Linked DNA regions of Homo sapiens. The protein of the gene in region 2 interacts with the protein of the main gene of each other region in a pairwise test. Each region holds a gene or a part of one and is shown on either strand. Other genes may lie near its edges.

Evidence for each region.
Region 1: the proteins of RSPH1 (region 2) and SDHA interact in a two-hybrid assay, tested with the Homo sapiens proteins (one large-scale study listed by BioGRID and IntAct).
Region 3: the proteins of RSPH1 (region 2) and HIVEP2 interact in a two-hybrid assay, tested with the Homo sapiens proteins (one large-scale study listed by BioGRID and IntAct).

Annotation. Positions count from the first base shown.
Region 1 is NC_000005.10:224,668-228,319, forward strand, and holds part of SDHA (succinate dehydrogenase [ubiquinone] flavoprotein subunit, mitochondrial), read left to right. Parts: intron 1-751; coding exon 752-895; intron 896-1,215; coding exon 1,216-1,380; intron 1,381-3,517; coding exon 3,518-3,652. UniProt on the Homo sapiens protein: Flavoprotein (FP) subunit of succinate dehydrogenase (SDH) that is involved in complex II of the mitochondrial electron transport chain and is responsible for transferring electrons from succinate to ubiquinone (coenzyme Q).
Region 2 is NC_000021.9:42,472,113-42,475,764, reverse strand, and holds the end of RSPH1 (radial spoke head 1 homolog), read left to right. Parts: intron 1-2,894; coding exon 2,895-2,947; 3' UTR 2,948-3,279; downstream 3,280-3,652.
Region 3 is NC_000006.12:142,763,564-142,767,215, reverse strand, and holds part of HIVEP2 (transcription factor HIVEP2), read left to right. Parts: intron 1-2,241; coding exon 2,242-2,417; intron 2,418-3,652.

The DNA.
Region 1 (3,652 bases), on a different chromosome or scaffold from region 2:
TCTCTCCCTGGAGCCTCTTCCCTGGGGACTTTGAAGGGCGGGAGACTTGTTGTCACTCCTAATTCAGACTCCAGTCACACTTGGGTTTTCTCTGACCATCTTGCCTACTACCTTCCCCACCTACCCCCGCCACCCCAACACCTTAAGAAAAGGAGATCACCTAAAGAGGAGGAATCAGAATTTAGGTTGGGGAAGAAAAGGGCAAGGGTTTCATTTGTCCCTGTGCTTCTGTCTTCTGGGACTCTCTGAGGGGTAAGACAGTGGTGGGCACACACAGCCAAAGGAAGCTGGGGTACAGGGGAGTGCGACTCTGAGTGTGGAGTTTATTACTTGGCAGGAAGCACTTCTAGTCTTTAACACATGCCCGTAAATGCCATTGGGAAGATTTGTTAATAAAATTATCTGGAAAGATTTGTTGAGTACCTTTTCTGTGCCAGATAGGTTAGGTTATAAGCATATTACAGGTAGCCTTTCACTCACTGCTCCAGTCAGCCCTTCCTGGAGTTCCCTGTGTCTCCACCACGCAGATGAGGAGACTGAGGCTAAGGATGGAATCACTGGGCGAGTCGGGGAGGGGTTGTGATCTGGAATCTGTCGGGTCTCGCTGCTCCTCTGCTGAGGTCAGCCCTCACTGGGAGTCACTGTGTGAGTAGTTGGCTTTCTCTGAATCCCCCCAGCGGGTGGATTTGGGCCTGGAAGACAAAGTTGGCGCTCCTGTTTGTGGCTTGTAAGGAGTGGTTGGTGTTTCCAGGGAGGAATCAATGCTGCTCTGGGGAACATGGAGGAGGACAACTGGAGGTGGCATTTCTACGACACCGTGAAGGGCTCCGACTGGCTGGGGGACCAGGATGCCATCCACTACATGACGGAGCAGGCCCCCGCCGCCGTGGTCGAGGTGATGGGCGGGAGGCTCTGGGTGTTCTCGTGGTCTGTTTCTAGTACAAAAGAATCCTGGAAAAAAATGTAAGCAATTGAGGCGGATGTGGCAGCCAAAAGAATGGTGATGAGCAAAGTTCACAAGAAGAGTCTTTTTCCGTTATGAACTATGCATTATATGTAACAAGAAAACTTCTCTTTGATGAAGTGTTGACATTTTCATAAAATAGGTTACTTTGGGTTTGCAGATTTGTGTTAAACTTGTTTAGTGTAGATTAGCTGCGAATATCTTGACTCCTTTAAGGTGTTAAGGTTTTTGTTTGTTTTTATCTTTCACAGCTAGAAAATTATGGCATGCCGTTTAGCAGAACTGAAGATGGGAAGATTTATCAGCGTGCATTTGGTGGACAGAGCCTCAAGTTTGGAAAGGGCGGGCAGGCCCATCGGTGCTGCTGTGTGGCTGATCGGACTGGCCACTCGCTATTGCACACCTTATATGGAAGGGTAAGGCCGCCCCCGTCCACCTGAGACAGGACACGTAGTGCTGGGGCTTATGGTGACAGTGGGGAATGGGTTAGCGTGCCCAGTGAGTCAGCCAGAGATTACGTAAAAAGCAACAGAGAACAGCAGCGTGGGGCGCATGCAGCGACTGTGGATGTGACAGGACCAGACGTGTGCCTTGAGGAGCTGTCCCTAAGGCAGTGTGTGACTTCTTGCATCTATGTCAGAAAGTTGAATCGATAATCTTACATACCAGGTTTTAACTTGGGATATGTGACACTCAACATACAAGAGCAGAGCAAGCAGGCCAGGCACAGTGGCTCAGGTCTGTAATCCCAGCACTTTAGGAGGCCAAGGCAGGAGGATCACTTGAGACCAGAAGTTTGAGACCAGCCTGGACAACATAGCAAGACCCTGTCTCTACAAAAAGTTTAAAAATTAGCTGGGCATGGTGGTACATGCTTGTAATCCCAGTTACTCAGGAGGCTGAGGCTCCTGGATCACTTGAGACCAGGAGGTTGAGGCTACAGTGAGCCATGTTCGTACCACTGCACTCCAGCCTGGGCAACAGGAGACCCTGTCTCAAAAAAAGAGAAAGAACAGGCTGGGTGCGGTGGCTCACGCCTGTAATCCCAGCACTTTGTGAGGCCTAGGCGGGCAGATCACAAGGTCAGGAGTTTGAGGCCATCTTGCCTAACACTGTGAAACCCCGTCTCTACTAAAAATACAAAAAAATTAGCCAGGCATGGTGGCAGGCACCTGTAGTCCCAGCTGCTTGGGAGGCTGAGGCAGGAGAATGGCGTGAACCCAGGAGGCGGAACTTGCAGTGAGCCGAGATCGCACCCCTGCACTCCAGCCTGGGCAACAGAATGAGACTCCATCTCAAAAAAAAAAAAAAAAAAAGAACAAGTATTTTAAGTCTCTTTTACCACCTCTGAGTTCCTGAATGGATTGGTTTTGTTTGTTTTGTTTTGTTTTGTTTTTGAGACGGAGTCTCACTCTGTCACCCAGGCTGGAGTGCAGTAGCACAATCTCAGCTCACTGCTACTTCCACCTCCTGGATTCAAGTGATTCTCCTGCCTCAGCCTCCCGAGTAGCTGGGACTACAGGCGCACGCCACCATGCCTGGCTAATTTTTTGTATTTTAGTAGAGACAGGGTTTCCCATGTTGCCCAGGCTGGTCCCGAACTCCTGAGCTCAGGCAGTCCACCTGCCTTGGCCTCCGAAAGTGCTGGGATTGCAGGCGTGAGCCACCGCACCCGGCCATGGATTGTTTTAATATTAACTGTTAACACTGAAGAAAGACTTGAGGTGACAATAGTTACTGGGTAATCAGAGTCAACTTTGGCATGGCCAAATAATATTCTGAACGGTATTGATTCAGAGTAATCAATATTCTGAACTTTGTTGTTTTCTGATGCATGGGGACGGATCGTTAATTTGCAGGTTGTTAGAACACCAGTGACTTCTCTGTGGCTGAGTGCATCGACAAGTGTGTGGTGGGAGGAGACCGCGGCTCCATCTGGAGCAGGAGCTGTCATGTGGGGAGCTGGCCCAGGCTTACAAGAGCGACTTGTGCTGGCTGAGGGAACGGCAGGTCCAGGCGGGCAGCGCTGTCCGGCGCCTACCTTTCTGCGGTGCCGGAATCTGCTCGTCTGCAACCGTCCGCTTTGGTAGCTGCCAGCCACATGGGGCTGTTGCTAATGTGGCAGGTGTAGCTGAAGAGCTGAATGTTTTGACTTATTTTAATTAATTAAGTGGTTATGTGTTGCCAGTAGCTCCCATCTGGGCTGTGACTGCATGGTCTGCGGACCTCACTCTGGCACCAGACTCCGAGTGGAGCTGCATGCGGCCACCGGACAGTGTGGAGTGCCTCTTCGGGTTGTGTAGAAGTAGGAAATGTGTCACCAAAATAGGAGCTGTTGCTGCTGCGTTCTCTAGCACACCTGCCTTGTCTGTACTGCTCGGCGTGGAATGCCTCTCGGGCTCTGACAGTGTCACTGACACTGTTGCTGATCTCCTTGGATTTACCTGGTCCATTTGGATCAAGTTCTTTCACCTATTCACATGAGCAGATACCACCTTAAAACCTTAAAGTTTGGCTTAACACTTCTTGCCCTTTTTTTTTCCTTTCTTTTAGTCTCTGCGATATGATACCAGCTATTTTGTGGAGTATTTTGCCTTGGATCTCCTGATGGAGAATGGGGAGTGCCGTGGTGTCATCGCACTGTGCATAGAGGACGGGTCCATCCATCGCATAAGAGCAAAGAACACT
Region 2 (3,652 bases):
TGTGAGCGCTCACTGGAGCCATCTCAGAACGTTGCTCCCTGGCAGGCCCTCCTGCAAGCCTGGCTGCAGTGGGAGAGGCCTGGGTGTGCAGCGGTGCCCATGCGCGTTGTCACAGGAGGACCGACCCCAGGCTGGAGAGCCCTGTCAGACATGCAGAGCCTGGCTTTCTTCTGTTGCATGATTTTTTTTTTTTTTTTGAGATGGAGTCTTGCTATGTCACCCAGGCTGGAGTACAGTGGTGCGATCTTGGCTCACTGCAACCTCCACCTCACTGGTTCAAGCAATTCCCCTGCCTCAGCATCCCAAGTAGCTGGGATTACAGGTGCATGCCACCATGCCCGGCTAATTTTTTTGTATTTTTAGTAGAGGTGGGTTTCACCGTGTTGGACAGACTGGTCTCAAACTCCTGACCTCACACAGGAGGCCCGCCTCGGCCTCCCAAAGTGCTGGGATTTGCATGATTTTTAGCAGGGCTGACTAACAGGAGTATGGTTTCAGACTAGTGGTGTCGGGAACTAGCTCTTTTTCAATGGGTTTGGATGTAAGATTAATCTAGAAACTTCTGCCTCTGCCAGCTCATAGGGCAGGGATTTGACCTCAGTTCTGACTGACTGAAGCCTCAGGCTCCTGGAATCTTTAAAAATCTTTCCCCAAGTGCTTGTGGGCACTTGCAGAAAGTCTGGAGAGAGGACTCGCTTCCCTTAACGCACTTTTCACATCTGACTGAAAGAGGGTGTCGTGCTTGTGAGGGAAAGGGCCATCTGGGAACAGCCTGGGCACGGCGGCCTCAGGCACGGGGTCTGCAGTCCCATTCCACTTAGTTTGTCTCTGTTGTAAATTAAGAATATACTTCCCATTCCTTTGAAAATAATACCTGAAATAATGAAATCACATAAAGCAGTTTTCTCTTAGATGCTTGAAGCACACATAGACTTTCGTGATCGGTAATTCCCCTGAGCGCTGGCATAGACTTTCGTGATCGGTAATTCCCCTGAGCGCTGTAGCAATGCACCCAGTGACGCAGTGCTGAGGTGGGACGTGGGGTCAGGTGGAAACCTGGCTTTACAAGTGAGCATCGTCTCTGCTTCTCTGACTTGCACAGGGAGGGTGGATAGAGTGAGCCCTGGTAGGTAGGGAGTCCACAGGATTCTGTTAGGACTGAGTGGCTAGAGTATGCACAGTGTTACAGCAGCATCTAGCTGTGCCCACAGATGTCAGTCCTTAGTCACTGTGGAGCACAGCTGGAGGGGGAGACACTGGGTTTGATAGGCAGTGTGGGAGTGAGGGGCTGGGCTCTCGCCCTCTAGCACCTAATGGGAAGCTGGAATAAAGGAATCAGTGAGTTCCCTGCAGTGACAGGGACGTGTTACCATGTACCCAGGAGAGGTGATGACTCACCTGGGGCAGGACCAGGAAACTCCGGGTTAGCTGGGAGGGAGGTGGCAAGGAATGGGTGAAACCAGGAAGGAAATTCCAGGCAGAGAGCAGAGTCTGACAGCAGAAGAGTGTGGGGGTGGGGAGGTGGCCCCTTTCCCTTGGAACCAGATGGCCTTTGAACTTGATCCTGAGCCCAGTAGGCGGGACCTCTGGGAGCTGTGGGGATTGCCTGTATCAGGCTTGCTCTCTGAGCTTCTCTGGGGCAATGAGGATGGGTGCCCTGGAGCCAGGCAAGGCAGGAGGCCCCAGAAACTTGGTGGGGGAGATAACGGAGGGGATGGAGCAGGAGGAATCCTGAAAACCGGACTGGGAGAGATGGGGCCGAGTGGACGATGCCCAGTACCAGCGGGCGTCTGAGACTGTGGGTTCATGCACCAGCCTTGGACAGAGGGAACACCCCCTTAACTCAGTGGTTTTGGGGCTCCAGGGGACATTTGGCAATGTCTGGAGACTTGGGAGGCTGGTGAGGGAGGTGCTGCTGGCATCTTCCTGGGTGGAGGCCGGGGACGGTGCTGAATACCCTGCAGGGCACAGAACAGCCCCCAGCAAAGGGTCACCCAGGCCACAGTGTCAGGAGGGCCCTAAGTGAAAAGGGAGTAATACAAAATAGGCTTAGTCGGCAGAACATTTATCAAAATAATGCAAGTTCAGCATGTATTCATCATGAATCCCACATTACATTGGAGATTTACCCTGCTAATTTCTTCTTTAATATACCCAACAGTGAAAGTTATAGAGTTTAATTAATAATAAAAAATAGCTCTACCTTTCACAAAACATTTAAATATAGCGTCTTATAAGAATGTGGCAAATTTCTGCTTTTTTTTTTTTTTTTTTTAAGATGGAATCTTGCTCTGTTGCTCAGGCTGAAGTGCAATGGCGTGACCTCGGCTCACTGAAACCTCTGCCACGGGGTTCAAGCGATTCTCTTGCCTCAGCCTCCCAAGTAACTGGGTTGACAGGCATGTACCACCATGCCCAGCTAATTTTTGTATTTTTAGTTGAGACGGGGTTTCACCATGTTGGCCGGGCTGGTCTCGAACTCCTGACCTCAAGTGATCCGCCTGCCTTGGCCTCCCAAAGTGCTGGGATTACAGGCATGAGCCACTGCGCCCGGCCTGCTTTTCTTTTAAATTAATAGCCAAGCAATTACATGTTTTAGCCACAAAGCTGGCTGTTTTGGACAGGTGTGCAGGCATAAGAGAATTACTGATGTTACATGGATAGTCTTGTCTTAGCATTTACTTTGAGTACGTATTTTGCTTATTTTATGTCGGGTACCAAAAGAAAAAACTGTTGAAGTGCATATGAGATAAAATTTAACATTCAATTTTTGACTGATGAATGCTTAATAGTTACAATAATTTTTTTCGGCAAAAGATCTGTTAGTGAATAAAGGCTTTAAAAATAGAACAAAGTAAATATGAGATATACTCATGTTTCTCTTTTCTTTTCAGGAAACATTAATTCTGAAGAAGAAGAAACTAGACAGTCAGACCTCCAGGACTAAGATGAAGTGAGCCGAGAGGAGATCGTATCATAAGAATGCTTCTGTCGTTAGCCGGGTGCAGTGCTGTGTGTATCTAGTTCCAGCTACTTGAGAGGCTGAGGCAGGAGGATTGCTTGAGTCCAGAAAGTGGCAGTTGCAGTGAGTGGAGATCGCGCCACTGCTCTCCAGCCTGGGTGGCAGAGCGAGACCCTGTCTCAAAAAATAAACAAAAACAAAATGCTTCTGTCAGTTAACAATCTTTATTAGAGGGTTTTTAGTCTTTCTTTCTCAGCTGTATGTTAAGTTGATTGACAAATGCAAATAAACGTCTTTATTATCCTTTCTTTCTGAAATAGCCTCTGCTTCAAGTTCTGTAAACTGAAGGTTACCACGTGGTTTTGCCATGGTTTTTCAGTGGTGTCTTCTCCTTGGATAGAGAAAACTGTAAATCTGCGGGAGACGGTGAATGGAAGTTTGGCTTCTGGCTGAGCTGGGAGAGTAGTTCTGTACCCAAACCCCTCTCTCAGATTTCCCACAAGGGAGGTAGGAAGCACTTAGAACATGAGGATTGCTGTGTGCAATGCTCCTCGAATGCAGTGTGATGGGTACACGGCCGGCTTGGGTAGGAGACCGCCCGCTGCCCCGCAGGGTTCCCTCCCACTCCTTCGCTTCTCCATGTGGAGCCCAGGCCCACTGTGGGGGCCCTGCAGGTGGCTGGGGAGAAGG
Region 3 (3,652 bases), on a different chromosome or scaffold from region 2:
TCAACCCTCTCACATTCAGCAGCCTTCATAGCAGTGTACTTGCACCAATAGATTAGCGAGAACTCCACAATTACTGTATGCTTTGGGGAGCCCATCTCCACTAACGAAGGACACAAGTGAAAAAGCGTATGTGAACATTTTATTGCTGTGTTTTGGTGATCCAAAAGGATTGTGCCCATATTTCATTTCCTCCTCCTTTAATTGCCCCGTTTTATGGGCTGTGTCCCATTACTTCTTAATCTGTGGCCCAATTTCTGCCCAGTGGTGACCAAGTGTTTTTTCCAAACCTTGTGTTACCTCCTCTTATTTTGGCAATTGCAAAGTGATAGCTAAAAAAATAAAAAGTATTACTGACCAAAATTGTAAGTGTATATTGTCTAACTGATAGGTTTAATAATAAATTCAATAATTTAGTTAAACACAGCTTTGAATGTTTTTCAAAATCCATCAATTACCTTATCAAGTAGATTCATGGGCCTGTAGAACTGTTGTATGATATATTATTTATACCAGTTTCTCTAATACATCATTATATTTTATACAGAATTTTACTGTATTTTCATTCTGGAAGCAAGTTAATCAGCTAAGACATTGAAAATAAAATTATACTGCTTGATGATAAAATGCATTTCCCATCACTATGATGGCAGGCTATAGTAAGCTTGAAGTATCCTTCCTTGAAGAAAATTAGCTTTGTACAAAAGTATTTGTTTTAGTCTATATGTCTTAAGCAATTTCATCTAGTTAGGGGCAGAGAATAGTGAAATTTAAAGGTGAAAGACATTTGCATCTTTAGGGTTTTTTCTACTTTATTGCAAAAGACAAAGATAAAATTCAAAATAATTTTGAAGAACAAGTGGAAGTCAAAATTCCTGGTAAAAGGGGGGAAATTTAAAGGAACGGAAGACATGCAAAATTGATTATTCATAGTTTTGAATAGTTTCTACTTAACTCTCATCTGGATTGGTACTGACCAAAAAGTAGATAACGTTAAGATTAGATGTGAATCCGTAACAGAGTTGCTGTTTAAATATGTGGATGGATTTCCTTTCTTAAAATTATTTCAATAGATTGGATGACTGAAGTTAAACTTGCCTTTATTCCTGTTTGTGGATTAGCTAGGATAAAATGAGGAAGTTTGCAATGCTCTTAGAATGTAAAAAAACTGTAAATTTAGTGCCTTTAACTAAATCCACAGTGGATTAGGGCATTTTGCATGTCAGTTTACCTTTGGAAGTTATGAAAAGAACTCCCCAAATGGAGCGTCTTTCCAAAAATAACATTAGACCCAAAATTCTAGCCTAGCTTTGACTTAAGAGATAATGACAGTCATTGAATTAGTCCGTATACTACTACTATATCTTATGACAAATTATGTTTTATTGTATTCTAAAATGGAATGGTTGAGCATTGGGTAGATTTCTTCCCTTGATTATCAAAGAAAATACCTAAGACTGTTTTTCTAGCCGATTTGATTAAGCAAGATGACCTCAGATATCCTTTCAAACATCTCTATGAAACCCTTCTGGAAACAAATGCAAATTTGATTAAAAATAGAATCTCTAGTTTTCATTATGTAACTACCTTGAAGAAGCTAGTTGAAATTTAGACTCCACATTATTACAGATTCATGGTCTTTGGGAAGAGCAGATCAAATCTGTAGACAACAGTTGGTGAGCTGAGCTCACCCTGTGTAAACTAGAAATTTCTGAGGCACTCTCGTGCCAGGATTGTAAAAATAGAGTAGGAACTTGCAATGAAGAATTCTATTATCAGTTATACTTAATTTAGCAAATTTAGAGGGTTGTATGTTTGTACATGTACATCTTAGATGATGTAATGTTAACAAAAGATACATGATGAACATGTTGGTATGCTTTTTGTATGTCCCTTGATTGGAGGCCATACTAGAATCCAGTCCAAAGGTCTGCAGCTCTTTGAGGTTTACATAAGTCATTTTGAACATCTACTTCCCAACTCTATAAATTCACATGTAATAGTGAAGCCAATTCCATTTTGAATTCCATGGAGCATTACATTTTGTTTACAGTGCCAAATCTATTATCTAGTTCTTTCAGCCATTTACTGCATAAATTTCACAGGCTTCGTAGAAGTAAAGTTGAATAATTGTCTGCAAAAGACCCTCATAAAACTTTGCCGTGCAAATAATTAGCTTTTGCTTTAATATATAGCATGCTAAGAATATTTGAAAACACACTGGATTCCCTCTTTTTAAAACAGGTACAAATCGAATGAAGATTATGTATATGTCAGAGGACGTGGCCGGGGAAAGTACATTTGTGAAGAATGTGGGATTCGCTGTAAGAAGCCAAGCATGCTCAAAAAACACATCCGTACCCATACTGATGTTCGGCCTTATGTATGCAAGTTATGTAACTTTGCCTTCAAAACGAAAGGTACAAGTCTGATTTTTTTGAGAGGAAAAATACTTCTCTATGGCTACTTAGATTTCTGAGTGCTATTTTATAACTAACCTTCATCAACAATAAAGATAGTTTGTTTGTGAAAATATGATTCCACGAAATATATTTTCTCCCTCAAGTAAGTGATCAAAGGATGTATGTGAGACTGTGAGGCTCCTTTTATGACTTAATTAAGAGCAGTAGACATAGGTCCAGGCCAGTTGTCTCCAAAGGAAGTGGCTACAAATTGTCTGGATAGCTATTACTTCATGTTGGAAATGTTATGTGGTCTAGATAATATTTACACCAGTATTGAAATCCTGCACATGCAGTGGTATTAGAGAAGCAAGGCAGCAGCTGGGAAGAAAACATGTGCTCTTGGTCAGTTTCAAGATTATAAATAATGTAGAGACCCACACACTCCCAGGTGGGTGCCTTCATCCACAGTTGCATTAATTATGCATAGAAATTTGATAGCTTGTGTTCCCTGTTTTTATCAGCACAGAGACAATTTCTGATTCTCAGTACATAACTGTTAGTCTTATAAAACTAGGACTTGCCTTAAAATTTTTTTTTAAAATCTGTTTTTAACAGGTAGATTTATGTAAAAATATTTTACTCAAGGAAGTTGCTTCGGTTATATTTTTATTTTTTATAATATTATGAAAATGTTCATAAGTCTGGTAGTCTCAGAATACAAACAGTAGTGAATTAGAGGTTGTTCGACTTTTGCAGAAGTGTGTTTTACCTTAGGTTTAGTGGATACTATAGGCACCCCCTCAACACTTTAAATTTTCATATTGATTAATCTGCTCATTCAAGAAAAAGAAATACCAAGTAAAATTATCTTTGGTAGAGAAATGTATACCTATATTCTTTTATAGCTGAAAATCCTAAATTGCTAGAAGTGTAAATGGGTAGCCTCTCAACATATCTGTTTCTCTTTTATTAAAAAGATCTATGTAATAGAATTGCCTCATTTGAAGCTGAAAAAAGTATGTGTTCATTTGTGTCTCAAAAAATAATCATATGGCCTTTTAAATACCACTCACCTCTGCACAATCAAGCCTTTTATACAGAACTTTACTAAGAGATTCCCTAGGAGATAAGAAAATAAAAACTTTGGTTTCAGGGAATATTGCAATTCAATAGTCATTACGAATGATACATATCTTCACTGGGCATATGAGTTTGCTGCAGGTATAGTTGTGTGAAAAACTGGATGAAGA